2 separate regions of the Homo sapiens genome follow, and region 2 is reported to be linked to region 1. Evidence: microRNA targets listed by miRTarBase, many of them from high-throughput screens and not tested one by one. Region 1 holds a microRNA gene; the other region holds the end of a gene's coding sequence.
What was found. The annotated mature microRNA hsa-miR-4530 reads CCCAGCAGGACGGGAGCG and lies in region 1 at 4,259-4,276, opposite strand. An mRNA with a match to its seed (bases 2 to 7 or 8) in the 3' UTR can be bound and repressed. Matches are read on the target gene's strand: a 7mer-m8 pairs with bases 2 to 8, a 7mer-A1 pairs with bases 2 to 7 and ends in A, and an 8mer does both.

Region 1 (8,156 bases):
ACACTCAGCTAATTTTTGCATTTTTGTAGAAATGGGGATTCGCCGTGTTGCCCAGGCTAGTCTCAGACTCCGAGCTCTAGTGATCCGCCTGCCTTGGGCGCCCAAAGTGCTAGGACTACAGGTGTGAGCCGGGCAGGAGAGTAACTTCACTTTGGTTTCCTCCTGCCTTAAATGGGCATACCACCTGGCATTAGGATTAATGTGCGTAAAGTACTTAGAACTCAGCCCAGGTGAGTTCTCCTTAACTCAGCCTAGAAGAGATCATCCGCCCGAGGGTGAGGGGGCTAGAGCCGCCCTGTGAATTGGGAAAGGAGGCCCCTTTTCAGCCTTGCCAGGTATCCTGGACCCCACCCAACCCACTCACTCACCCACCCAACCCCAGCAAGTGGGGAGAGGGAGAGCAGTCCAGGTCTCCTTATCTGTCTGGGCTGTTTAGGAGTGAGACCACACAAGGCAGGCAGTTCTCAGAGAATTCCCCTCCAAGGCCTGCTGGCTCTTTCTTGGCACTTTGCTCTGCAGATTTCTTTCCGTAAGTGCTTATTTCTCACAGTCTTTCTCCTTTTTGTCCAGTTTCTTTTTCTTTTTAATTTTTTTAAATAGTATTTTTTGTAGACATGGGATCTCACTGTTGCCCAGGCTGATCTTGAACTCCTGATCTCAGGTAATCCACCTGCCTCATCCTCTGAAAGTACTGGGATTGGCCGGGCTTGGTGGCTCACACCTGTAATTCCAGCTCTTTGGGAGGCGGAGGTGGGAGGATCGCTTGAGCCCCGGAGCTGGAGATTAGCCTGGGCAACATAGGGAAACCCCGTCTTTCAAAAAAAAAAAAAAAGAAGAAGAAAAAGGAAAGAAAAACACAAAAAGTGCTGGGATCACAGGTGTGAGCCACTGCGCTCAGCCCCTTTCTGTTTCTTTTTGTGATCCTCCCAACCCTCTTCTCCCTCTGAATCTGTCTCTGGGACTGTCTCTGTCTCCCCGTCTTCCCTCCCTTCCTCACCCTGTCTATCTCTCTCTGTATGTCTCTTGGTGTGTGTGTCTCTCTCGATGTTTTTCTCTCTGCCTGTCTGCCTGTCTGTACCCCTCTGCGTCTCTCCCCGCCCCCATCCGTCTGTGTCGCACGCGCACCCCCATCGGGCTTCTGCTCTTGTCAATTGCCCCTGGGGCCCTGCCCCCACCTCCGCCCCAGTTTCCTTCTACAAGCCTCAGTCTCCAGCTTTGAAAACTGGGCAGGCGTCCCCCCATCCGCACCCCCACCCCTTCCCCACGCATTCCCCGCTCGGTCACGGCTGTCCACCGGCCAAGCTCAGGCGCGTCCTGGCCCAGGGCCGGGCGGAAGGGAACCAGTCCAGGGCCAGCCAGGCTGCGCCGGGGGCGCGCGTCCGGGAAGCGCCCCTCCTGCCCCGCCCCCGGCCCCGGCCCCGGCCCCGCCCCGTGCTTGCAGTTTCCTATAAGTAGCCGGCTCTCGGTGCCAGCCTCAGCCTGACTTCAGCGCTCCCACTCTCGGCCGACACCCCTCATGGCCAACCGTTACACCATGGATCTGACTGCCATCTACGAGGTGAGTCCCCGCCGCACGGCATCCCCGGTACCTGCATGCCTGAGTCCGAGTCCCCACCTCTCTAGCGCCGCAAACTCCAGCCCGGGACGCTTGCCTCCCTTCTCCAACTGGGGCTCCCTAGCGCCGCGCCCTCCAGCCTGGGGCCCCTGCCTCCCGCTCAGACCAGCTTGGTGATTTGGAGGTGAAAATGGAACCCGCGACACCCGGCTCTTCGCTCAAACATGGGTGGGGCGGCCCATGCAAGTGGAAAGTCGGAGAACTTTTCTCAGACCGAGGCTGCCTGGAGGCGGAAGTGGCCCCCATACCTGGCTCACCCCTAGTCGTTGCTGAGGGCGTGGTTTTGCGCGGAGGCGTCTCTGGGGCTGAAGTCTCAGGGTGGGGGGATCCGACTTCTGTCTCTCCAGTCCCTGACCGTAGAGACAGAGAACCCTAAAACCGAAGCAATCCGGACTTCCAGGTCAACTTTGCCCGGTTTCTCCAGTTGTGAAACTGGAGATCCCGACGCGTGGGTCATATCCGGGGAGGACAAGAGACCCAAAATTGGGAAACAGTGGTGCGCCCTGACTTCGGGGTCCCCCTCTTGGTCCAGCCGGGGAAGCCGGGATTCCTGGGTCCCTCGGGATAAGGCCTCGGTGGTGGGTAAACTCAGAACCTCCAACTCTGGGTTCCTGGCATCCGGAACCCAGGGGTTTCTGCGGGCGGGTGGGGCTCAGGCGGGGAGCCCACAAACCGGCCTGGCAAGCTCTAGTTCCCTGCAGCTGGGGTGGGGCGTCGCCCTGCATTTTCAGGTGCCTTAACCGACCCATTTCCGCAGAGCCTCCTGTCGCTGAGCCCTGACGTGCCCGTGCCATCCGACCATGGAGGGACTGAGTCCAGCCCAGGCTGGGGCTCCTCGGGACCCTGGAGCCTGAGCCCCTCCGACTCCAGCCCGTCTGGGGTCACCTCCCGCCTGCCTGGCCGCTCCACCAGCCTAGTGGAGGGCCGCAGCTGTGGCTGGGTGCCCCCACCCCCTGGCTTCGCACCGCTGGCTCCCCGCCTGGGCCCTGAGCTGTCACCCTCACCCACTTCGCCCACTGCAACCTCCACCACCCCCTCGCGCTACAAGACTGAGCTATGTCGGACCTTCTCAGAGAGTGGGCGCTGCCGCTACGGGGCCAAGTGCCAGTTTGCCCATGGCCTGGGCGAGCTGCGCCAGGCCAATCGCCACCCCAAATACAAGACGGAACTCTGTCACAAGTTCTACCTCCAGGGCCGCTGCCCCTACGGCTCTCGCTGCCACTTCATCCACAACCCTAGCGAAGACCTGGCGGCCCCGGGCCACCCTCCTGTGCTTCGCCAGAGCATCAGCTTCTCCGGCCTGCCCTCTGGCCGCCGGACCTCACCACCACCACCAGGCCTGGCCGGCCCTTCCCTGTCCTCCAGCTCCTTCTCGCCCTCCAGCTCCCCACCACCACCTGGGGACCTTCCACTGTCACCCTCTGCCTTCTCTGCTGCCCCTGGCACCCCCCTGGCTCGAAGAGACCCCACCCCAGTCTGTTGCCCCTCCTGCCGAAGGGCCACTCCTATCAGCGTCTGGGGGCCCTTGGGTGGCCTGGTTCGGACCCCCTCTGTACAGTCCCTGGGATCCGACCCTGATGAATATGCCAGCAGCGGCAGCAGCCTGGGGGGCTCTGACTCTCCCGTCTTCGAGGCGGGAGTTTTTGCACCACCCCAGCCCGTGGCAGCCCCCCGGCGACTCCCCATCTTCAATCGCATCTCTGTTTCTGAGTGACAAAGTGACTGCCCGGTCAGATCAGCTGGATCTCAGCGGGGAGCCACGTCTCTTGCACTGTGGTCTCTGCATGGACCCCAGGGCTGTGGGGACTTGGGGGACAGTAATCAAGTAATCCCCTTTTCCAGAATGCATTAACCCACTCCCCTGACCTCACGCTGGGGCAGGTCCCCAAGTGTGCAAGCTCAGTATTCATGATGGTGGGGGATGGAGTGTCTTCCGAGGTTCTTGGGGGAAAAAAAATTGTAGCATATTTAAGGGAGGCAATGAACCCTCTCCCCCACCTCTTCCCTGCCCAAATCTGTCTCCTAGAATCTTATGTGCTGTGAATAATAGGCCTTCACTGCCCCTCCAGTTTTTATAGACCTGAGGTTCCAGTGTCTCCTGGTAACTGGAACCTCTCCTGAGGGGGAATCCTGGTGCTCAAATTACCCTCCAAAAGCAAGTAGCCAAAGCCGTTGCCAAACCCCACCCATAAATCAATGGGCCCTTTATTTATGACGACTTTATTTATTCTAATATGATTTTATAGTATTTATATATATTGGGTCGTCTGCTTCCCTTGTATTTTTCTTCCTTTTTTTGTAATATTGAAAACGACGATATAATTATTATAAGTAGACTATAATATATTTAGTAATATATATTATTACCTTAAAAGTCTATTTTTGTGTTTTGGGCATTTTTAAATAAACAATCTGAGTGTAAGCTGGGATCCTGGCTTCTTCGCGGTCTAGAGACAGGAATGGAGAGGGAGGGGGTGACTTTTTGGAAGCTGGGTGCAGTTAACTCTTCCTCTCCGAGCCCCGCGGCGCTTACCTGGCAGGAAGTGACGTCACCGGGCCTGGCCGTTCACCTGAAAGGGTGGGACCAGGTGAGGTCACCAGATGGGAACCGGGGGAGCCAGTTCCCGGGCGTCGGGGGCGCCGCGCTCCCGTCCTGCTGGGCTCCTTGACCCAGCTTCGGGCGGGTGCGGTCGGGGACGGGATGTTTCCGTCCCCACGGGGCCGCGGGAGGCGGGAGGGGCCGGGTGGGGAGGACGGAATGTGCTGGGGCGCGCGCCCAGAGCGAGCGGGGGCGGGCGCGGGGCGGGGCAGCCTGGGGTAGCGGAACCCGTTTCGGGACTAGAGGTTCCGGGGGGGCTTCGACACCTTCTGGATGTTGGGGAAGCGGGTTTAGGGTCTCAAGAGGCTAGGATCTCAACATTTGGGAGTCACAGGTTGCATCCCCTAGCGCTTTAGACTCTAGACCCCTGGTGGCTCGGAGTTGCAGATTTCTGGCCACCCGGGACCCTGGAGCCCGGGAATTACCGGGTCTTGGCATTTCCGAACCTTGGAAGTCCGAGGCTTCGCACACCGACCAGGGTCGGCCCCGCGAGGCCAGGGCGTGTGGGTAGGGGCCGCGCGTCTAGGAGGGGCCCCGGGGGAGCCGCGTCTTCAGACCATACAAGGCCAGCGTCGTCGGGACCAACCCCGGGGCCCCGCGCCCGGAAGCCGCCCTGCGTCAGCGCCTGCGGCTCGGCCCTGCCGCCCAGCCTTCGCCCCCTGCGACCCCTCTTTTTTCTCCTTGCCCCGCACTCCTCCCTCCTCCCTCTCACTTCCCTCTTCTCTCCTTTCCCTACCCTCACCCTTCCTCCTCTTTTTCACTTCCTCCTCTGCACCCTTCTGCCCCGCCCTACACCCTTTGCCTTCTGTTCTTCTCTCCCCCTCCAATTTGTCCCCTCCCTCATTACTCCTCTCCCACTTCCAGCCTCCCCATCCTGCCGTCTCTTACCCCCTTTCTCCTCCTTCCCGTCTCCCTTCTCTCCCTTTTTCCGTCCTTCTTTCCCTCTCCACCCTTTCCTTGCCCTCCCACTCCCCATTGTCCTCTTCCCCTCCTCCCCCTAGCCTTACTCCTTCTCCTCTTCTCTCTCCCTCTGAAGCCCCTTTCCCTCCTCTCCCTTCTCTCTACCCTCCTCAAGCCTCCCTCCTGCTCTCAGGCCTCCTTGGCCCACTCCCCTTGCTCACTGACATTTGGTCTCCTCTTCCAGGAAACTGCTTCCCTTGTGGGAAAGGGCTCAGGCCCTAATAAGTAGAAGAGGATCAGGCGAGAGGGAGTCAGAACCCCTGAGATGCAAAGGCAGCAGAGGGGCAGAGACCAAGAGCAAGCAGTGAAGAGACATTTGCAGAAACAGTCTTGGAGACTGAAAGAACAACATCTCTGGTCCTTCCTTTAGCCAGATCTGATTCTCTGCCCCTTCCCCAAAAAATCCCTCATATAAGAAAACGGCACTTCTCACCATCTACCAGGGCTTAAGCCAGACACCCAGGAGTATCCCTTGACACCTTGTTCTCAAATCCACACCCCAGTCCAACAGCAATCCTGTCTGATCCACCTGCAAAATAGATCCACTATCCACCTGCCCCCACCATGACCCCCACCCTGGTCCTAGCCAACATCGTCTGCCATTTGCATCTTCATAGCAGCCCCAGCCCCAGTCTCTGCTCTAGCCCCTGCCTTCAGTCTCTCCTTTCTCCACTCCCCCACGAGACAACCAAAGGAAGCCTGTTATGAGACCTGAGTCAGGTCACATAAAAGTCAAAGTCCGAAGTCCTCCCCACAGCCCACACAATCTGGCACCCATCGCTTACCCTCCCCCTTGGCCACTCTGCTCCAGCCACACTGGCCTCCTAGCTGCTCTACCAAGTCTGGTCTGCTTCATCCATAGGAGCTTTGCACTAGCTGTTCCCTCTGCCTGAACACTCCCCTGGTGTCCCCATGGCTCACTCCCCTCCTTCATGTCTCTGCTCAAAAGTTGCCTTCTCTGTGAGATCCTCCCTGACCACTGCTGTTGCAATCCACACCCCACCTCCAACTACCCCATCCTCCCTACCTTGCTCGACTTTTTCCATGACATTTATCATCACCACCTAACATTAAAATGTACTTAATTCTTATGTTGACAGCAATCTGCCTCCCCACTAGAATGTCGCGTCCTCAGGGGCAGGGACTACTTGTTCACTGCTGTATTACACACAGCTAAAGGAAGCCAGGCATAGTGAATGTTCAATATTTATTGAAAAAACAAGTCGACTCAAAAACATAGTTTTCCTTTTCAACAGAGGTCGAAAACTCCAAGACAGATAGCTATGTTCATCTGTAAAGGAGGCATTAAAAAGACAGAGAAATACAGAGGAGGCAGAGTCATATACAGTTTGCCGAGGACCCACATCTCTACAGAAGTCAAACTGTTTGCACACAATTCCATGCCCAGAGCATCTAATAAGAGACGATACCCCCACCTGGTGGCTGGGACGGAAACGGCACCTCCCTACAATACAGAACACCCAAAGGACCGTCGCCAAAGCCCTAGGAGTCTTTTGAGCCCAATAATTCAAAAGATAGAAACGTTCATTCATCTAAGTGATGTAGATGTTTTGGTTGGTTTATTAGATGTGTAAGTTTATAAAAACTGATGGGGAAAAAAAGTGCTCCAGGTGAGGATCGAACTCACAACCTCGGCATTGCTCCGCTCGCACTGTCATATAAGTACCGCGCGCTAACCGATTGCGCCACTGGAGCTCCGGCCGCACCCCTGCGCCGGGGTCTTCTTCAGTGGTTCATAGCCACGTGACCTCACCGGAGGGCCCCGCCTTGTGTTATATATGCAAATTAAACATTTTGCATTGACCAATAGGAGACAGTGCATTGCCAGTTCCGGATTCTCACGCCTCGCGGCCCTTGCTGTAAAAGGGAAAAGTCCGCGAGGCGTTTGGAATGTAGGGGTGTCGCCTACCAGAAGGACACGCCTCCTCATGAATATTCAAAACAAGGGGTGGGGTCTTAACCCTTCGCTGGCGGGTCGGCCGGAAGGCAGCCCCTCCCCCCCCCGCAGGCGGGAACAGGATGTGAGCCCCGGCGACAGCGGGGGAGGGGAAGCCCCGGGCGACCGCCCCCCGCCTCACAGCTGGGATCGGACTCTCCCGCCCCAGATGTGGCGCCGCCGCCGTCACACGAGCCCCGTGACACCCAGCCGGGAGCCCGAGGGGTCCAGAGGCTCGGACCCGGGCGTCCGGAATTTCTGCACCGCATCCTGAGAGACCCCGAGGTCCAGACCCCGGCGCCCAGGCTGGAGGACTTGAGCCATCCAGGTGCGCAGCGCCCCCTCCTGGAGCAGCCGGGAGCCCGGACGTCACCCCGCGAGACCCTGGAGGCCGAGCGCCCCGTATCCCCGTTTCAAGAACTCAGGATCCAGGACCGCAGACTCCCTCCAGGGCTCCGATCCCAAGACCCCGCGTTGGAGGAACTTGAGATCCGGACTTCTAAGCGCCCCAACCAGTTTCGGGCTGCAGCGGCCATCGCTTCAAGGGGACCCAGGACTTTGGGACCCCCCTGTGCTCCCACCTGGAGGGAGTTTCATTCCTGCCCCTAGAATTAGGGGAACTCAGAAATCCATCCCCCACCCCACGGCCCTACCTAGAAGACTTAGGAATGTGGGTCCCCAGCGCCGCCATCTGAGACTCCAGAGTCGAGGCTCCTAGCATCCCCTACGTAGAACACTGAGAAATTCCGACTGCGGGACCCCAGTCTCCGAGAGACCCCAGATTCTATTCCTGGAGCCTGAGAGCCCGAAGTTCACGCCCCTGAGTCTGGGCTCCGCACCTCCCTGGGGACCGCGTCGGGGTCGCGCAGGAGCCGGGCTGCCTCGAGCCGGGGCTGGAGGCTCCCCGGGAGGTGAGGGGGGAGGCGAGGGGCCCAGGCGGACTGGGGGAGGGGGCGGCGCCACTGCTGAACAATGAGGGGGCGTGCCGGCGGGGGGCGAGCCGAGGCGCCGGCGGGAGTTGGGGG
Region 2 (3,000 bases), not on the chromosome of region 1:
TGGGTATAATGTTGACATGGGACAGGATGATTCTTTGTTGTGGGGACTAAGTTTAGCATTCTTAGTAGTGCCCCCACGCATGGGGGCAACCAAAAATGCCCCCCCTACAATCTCAGTCACCTCTATTGAAAACCATCAAACAAAAGCCATGGACAAGAAGCTTTAAGCATCAGAGTCAAGGTTTCTAATATTGCAAAGACTAAATAATTCCAAGGGGGGTGGGATGGAAAGAAAGAGAGAGAGAGTGTGTGTGTCTGTATGTGGGTTGTAGAGATGGGACACAGAGATGAAGACAGGACAGACTTGGAACTATCCCTGCAATTAATACCTGGCTTCCCAGATCCCTTTCCAAGCCAAAAAGATGTTTTTAGACAAAACTTGCCAAGCCTCACAACAGTCCTGTGAGGTAGGTAAGTATTATTACACCCATTTGGTAGATGGAAAGAGCTGAGCTGAGAGAAGCTGCATGATCCATCTAGAAATCAGCAGTAGACCCTGGGGAGGAAAGAGAGGATGGTGCCCTTCTTCTCCCTACTCTACGTGCCTTGGCTTTCTCTTAAGACAGAAGGAGGAGCCCCAAGGTGCTCTGCCTCTTCAAATGTCACCATTGAGAAGGAAGAAGAAAACAGTTTTGCATGAAGGTAGCTATAAGAAGTTTTCTGAATGGCTGGTGGCTCTGGTCTGTCTGCTCCCAAAGCCAGGAAAATCTGAGCCCCAGCCCATGACAGGTTCTGGGTAGAGAAGAATGGGAGGCGCACAGGCAGATCAGACGGGGAACTGGTGAGCCCAGCAGGTTGGCTAAGGGACACTGGCCACAGCCACGGGCACCCTGCAGGTACTACTGGTCCTCAGTCTCCCCCCACTCCACCCTTGCGAGGCTTGCAGCTGCTTTTTGACAGGGAGAGCTCTGAGGTAGACCCCAAACTCTCTGAAAAAGGGGGCTACTCCTCTCTCATCCCTCCTAGGGGCCCAGAAGACAGGGCATCAAAAAATCAGTAAGGGAGAGAGGGATTGGAAGTAGATGGGCAGAGAGGCTTGTTACCACTTTTCCCTGCCATCCCTGGCCTCACCAATTCTGCCCAACAAGGACTCAGGAGATCCCACTCCCAACATCACCACCTCCCCCTAGGGCAGGCTAGAAACCCCAATGGGAGCACCTGGCCGACATCTCCAAGATTCAGTCACTGGCCAATTCCAGCCTCATGGCCCCCTCTATGACCCTGGGGAGGGGAGGGCTGGCGAACCCTCACCAGCACCACACCAGACTCTGCTGTTATGTCAGGACATACCGTCTAGAGAGGATGGGGGTAAGGGCTAGGATTCAGGACTAAGGCACATTCTAGCCCCACACACAAGGGCTGTGCAAACCAGCTCTGGGAGAAGCAAAGGAAAACTGTGGGCACCCACTCCCTGCTCCTCCCCAACCCCAGGGTGGGAGGGGGTGGCCCAGCTGAGCAGGAAGCAGCTGGGAAACCCAAGGACCCCCTCATCCAAAGGAAGAGAGTCCCTGAGGCGAAGGCAGGCCCTTGACCCAGGGCTGGGAAATGAACCACCCTGGGGGCAGGGCGTGATGGAGGGCACGGTGGGGGGGGGGGAGCGAGCCAATGGGAGGTTGGAGGGTGCAGCCTCTCAGGTAGGAGGGGGAGAAGCAGGGGAGAGCTGGGCTCAGGAGTGCCCAGAGTGGCGATGGTCCTGCCATGCCAGGGGAGGGGCTGCCAGCATTGGCAGCAATGGGGCGGGCATCCCAGAGGCCCAGGACACTGGCTCACTACCTCTGTGGCCCAATTCCCCAAGTAGAAATGCTTGGAAAGGCATAGGGAGCACTCGGGTACTCCAGGAAGGCTCGAGGGGCCCCTTCCTGAGCCCCTCAGTAACCCAGAGAGCAGAGGAGCAGGCTAGGTGGCCAGGAACCCTCAAGACCAGGGTGGCCAGCCCTGGTTGAGAGGGCTTAAAAACTCTGAGCAGGGGAGGGGATAGGCAGATAGGGTCCCGGGGCAGGGGAAAGGAAGTTTCCTACTTGGAAGACTGTGGGGGATCTGGTATCCTATGAAGCAGAGGCAGTCTCTCACTGTGGGCCTGCCCCCATCAGCCCCCACCCCAGGTCTTCTCCAGAGGCCTCCAGCCCACTCCCACCTCCAAAGGAAGCCACTTCTTCCTACACCCCATCTCCAGGGTGCAGCTCTTAGGACATCCCTTACGGATCCTCCCAGTCTCTTGTGAAGAGAAGCCTGGAGGAAAATCAAGGCCCTGCTTGTGCAGGGTAGGGAGACTGAAGGAGACCCCATCTGCCCAGGTGTCAGGGGACCAGCCCCTCCACACCACCCTAGCCTCTCCTTTCTTTCTCCTGAATCTTCCACAGACCCCCTCCCCTGGCCATCCCTTGTCCCTGGGGAGCCCTGACTGGGAAGGGGATGGGCAGGCTGGGCAGGACTCTGGTTTCTTGTGCCCGGAAAGACTACAGTTTGAGCCAAGCAGCAGATGTCTCAGGCACGTGGGTTCTACGGTCGGGGCTCAAGCATCAGTTTCATCATCAGAAAGGGGGCTCCCTGCAGCTGCTCAGCCCGAAGCAGGGCTCACACTTTTGAAGGTGGTTTCTCCTCTGCCTTGGAGCCAGGCAAGCCGTTCTCCGTGTTGTCATTCCCCGAGGAGCTCACGAGACACTCCTTCCTGGAGAGGGAGAGAGAAGGGACAGTGGTGAGGAGAGGAGCAAGAGTAGGGGGAGAATTGTGGCAGGAGCCGTGGGCCCTGCACCCAGCCCTGTGCCTCTCCCTGGCCTTCTACAGAGCTAAGGTAGCCAGAGGCCATGTCACCTAACCTCTCTGTACCTCAGTCCCCTCATTTGTGAAATAGAGGTAGGGATGACCTTCTGCGTGGGGTTGCTGGAAGGAGAAATGAGCACTTAGAACAGTGCCTGCCATGTAGAAAGTTCTCAACTGGCCAGGTGCGGTGGCTCACACCTGTAATCCCAGCACTTTGGGAGGCCGAGGCAGGCAGATCACT

Region 2: miRTarBase lists SCN4B as a target of hsa-miR-4530. Seed matches in the 3' UTR shown: 7mer-m8 at 787-793.

What each region holds. Positions count from the first base shown.
Region 1 is chr19:39,405,371-39,413,526 of GRCh38, forward strand. MIR4530 (microRNA 4530) reads right to left here and starts at 4,308; the gene lies at 4,253-4,308. It overlaps ZFP36 (ZFP36 ring finger protein), which reads left to right and starts at 1,477. Exons shown (of 2, transcript NM_003407.5): 1 at 1,477-1,558; 2 at 2,373-4,037. The coding sequence starts at 1,535. The coding sequence ends at 3,329. It overlaps PLEKHG2 (pleckstrin homology and RhoGEF domain containing G2), which reads left to right and starts at 7,299. Exons shown (of 19, transcript NM_022835.3): 1 at 7,299-8,042. It overlaps TRI-TAT1-1 (tRNA-Ile (anticodon TAT) 1-1), which reads right to left and starts at 6,890; the gene lies at 6,798-6,890. RefSeq lists silencers at 1,071-1,520, 4,311-4,370, 4,721-5,040, 7,111-7,470, 8,001-8,140 and 1 more and enhancers at 1,641-1,840, 1,891-2,528, 2,529-3,167, 3,168-3,805, 4,068-4,658 and 3 more.
Region 2 is chr11:118,134,454-118,137,453 of GRCh38, forward strand. SCN4B (sodium voltage-gated channel beta subunit 4) reads right to left here. Exons shown (of 5, transcript NM_174934.4): 5 at 1-2,667. The coding sequence ends at 2,574. Among named protein-coding and RNA genes, the nearest start is that of SCN4B, 17 kb to the right of the region's middle.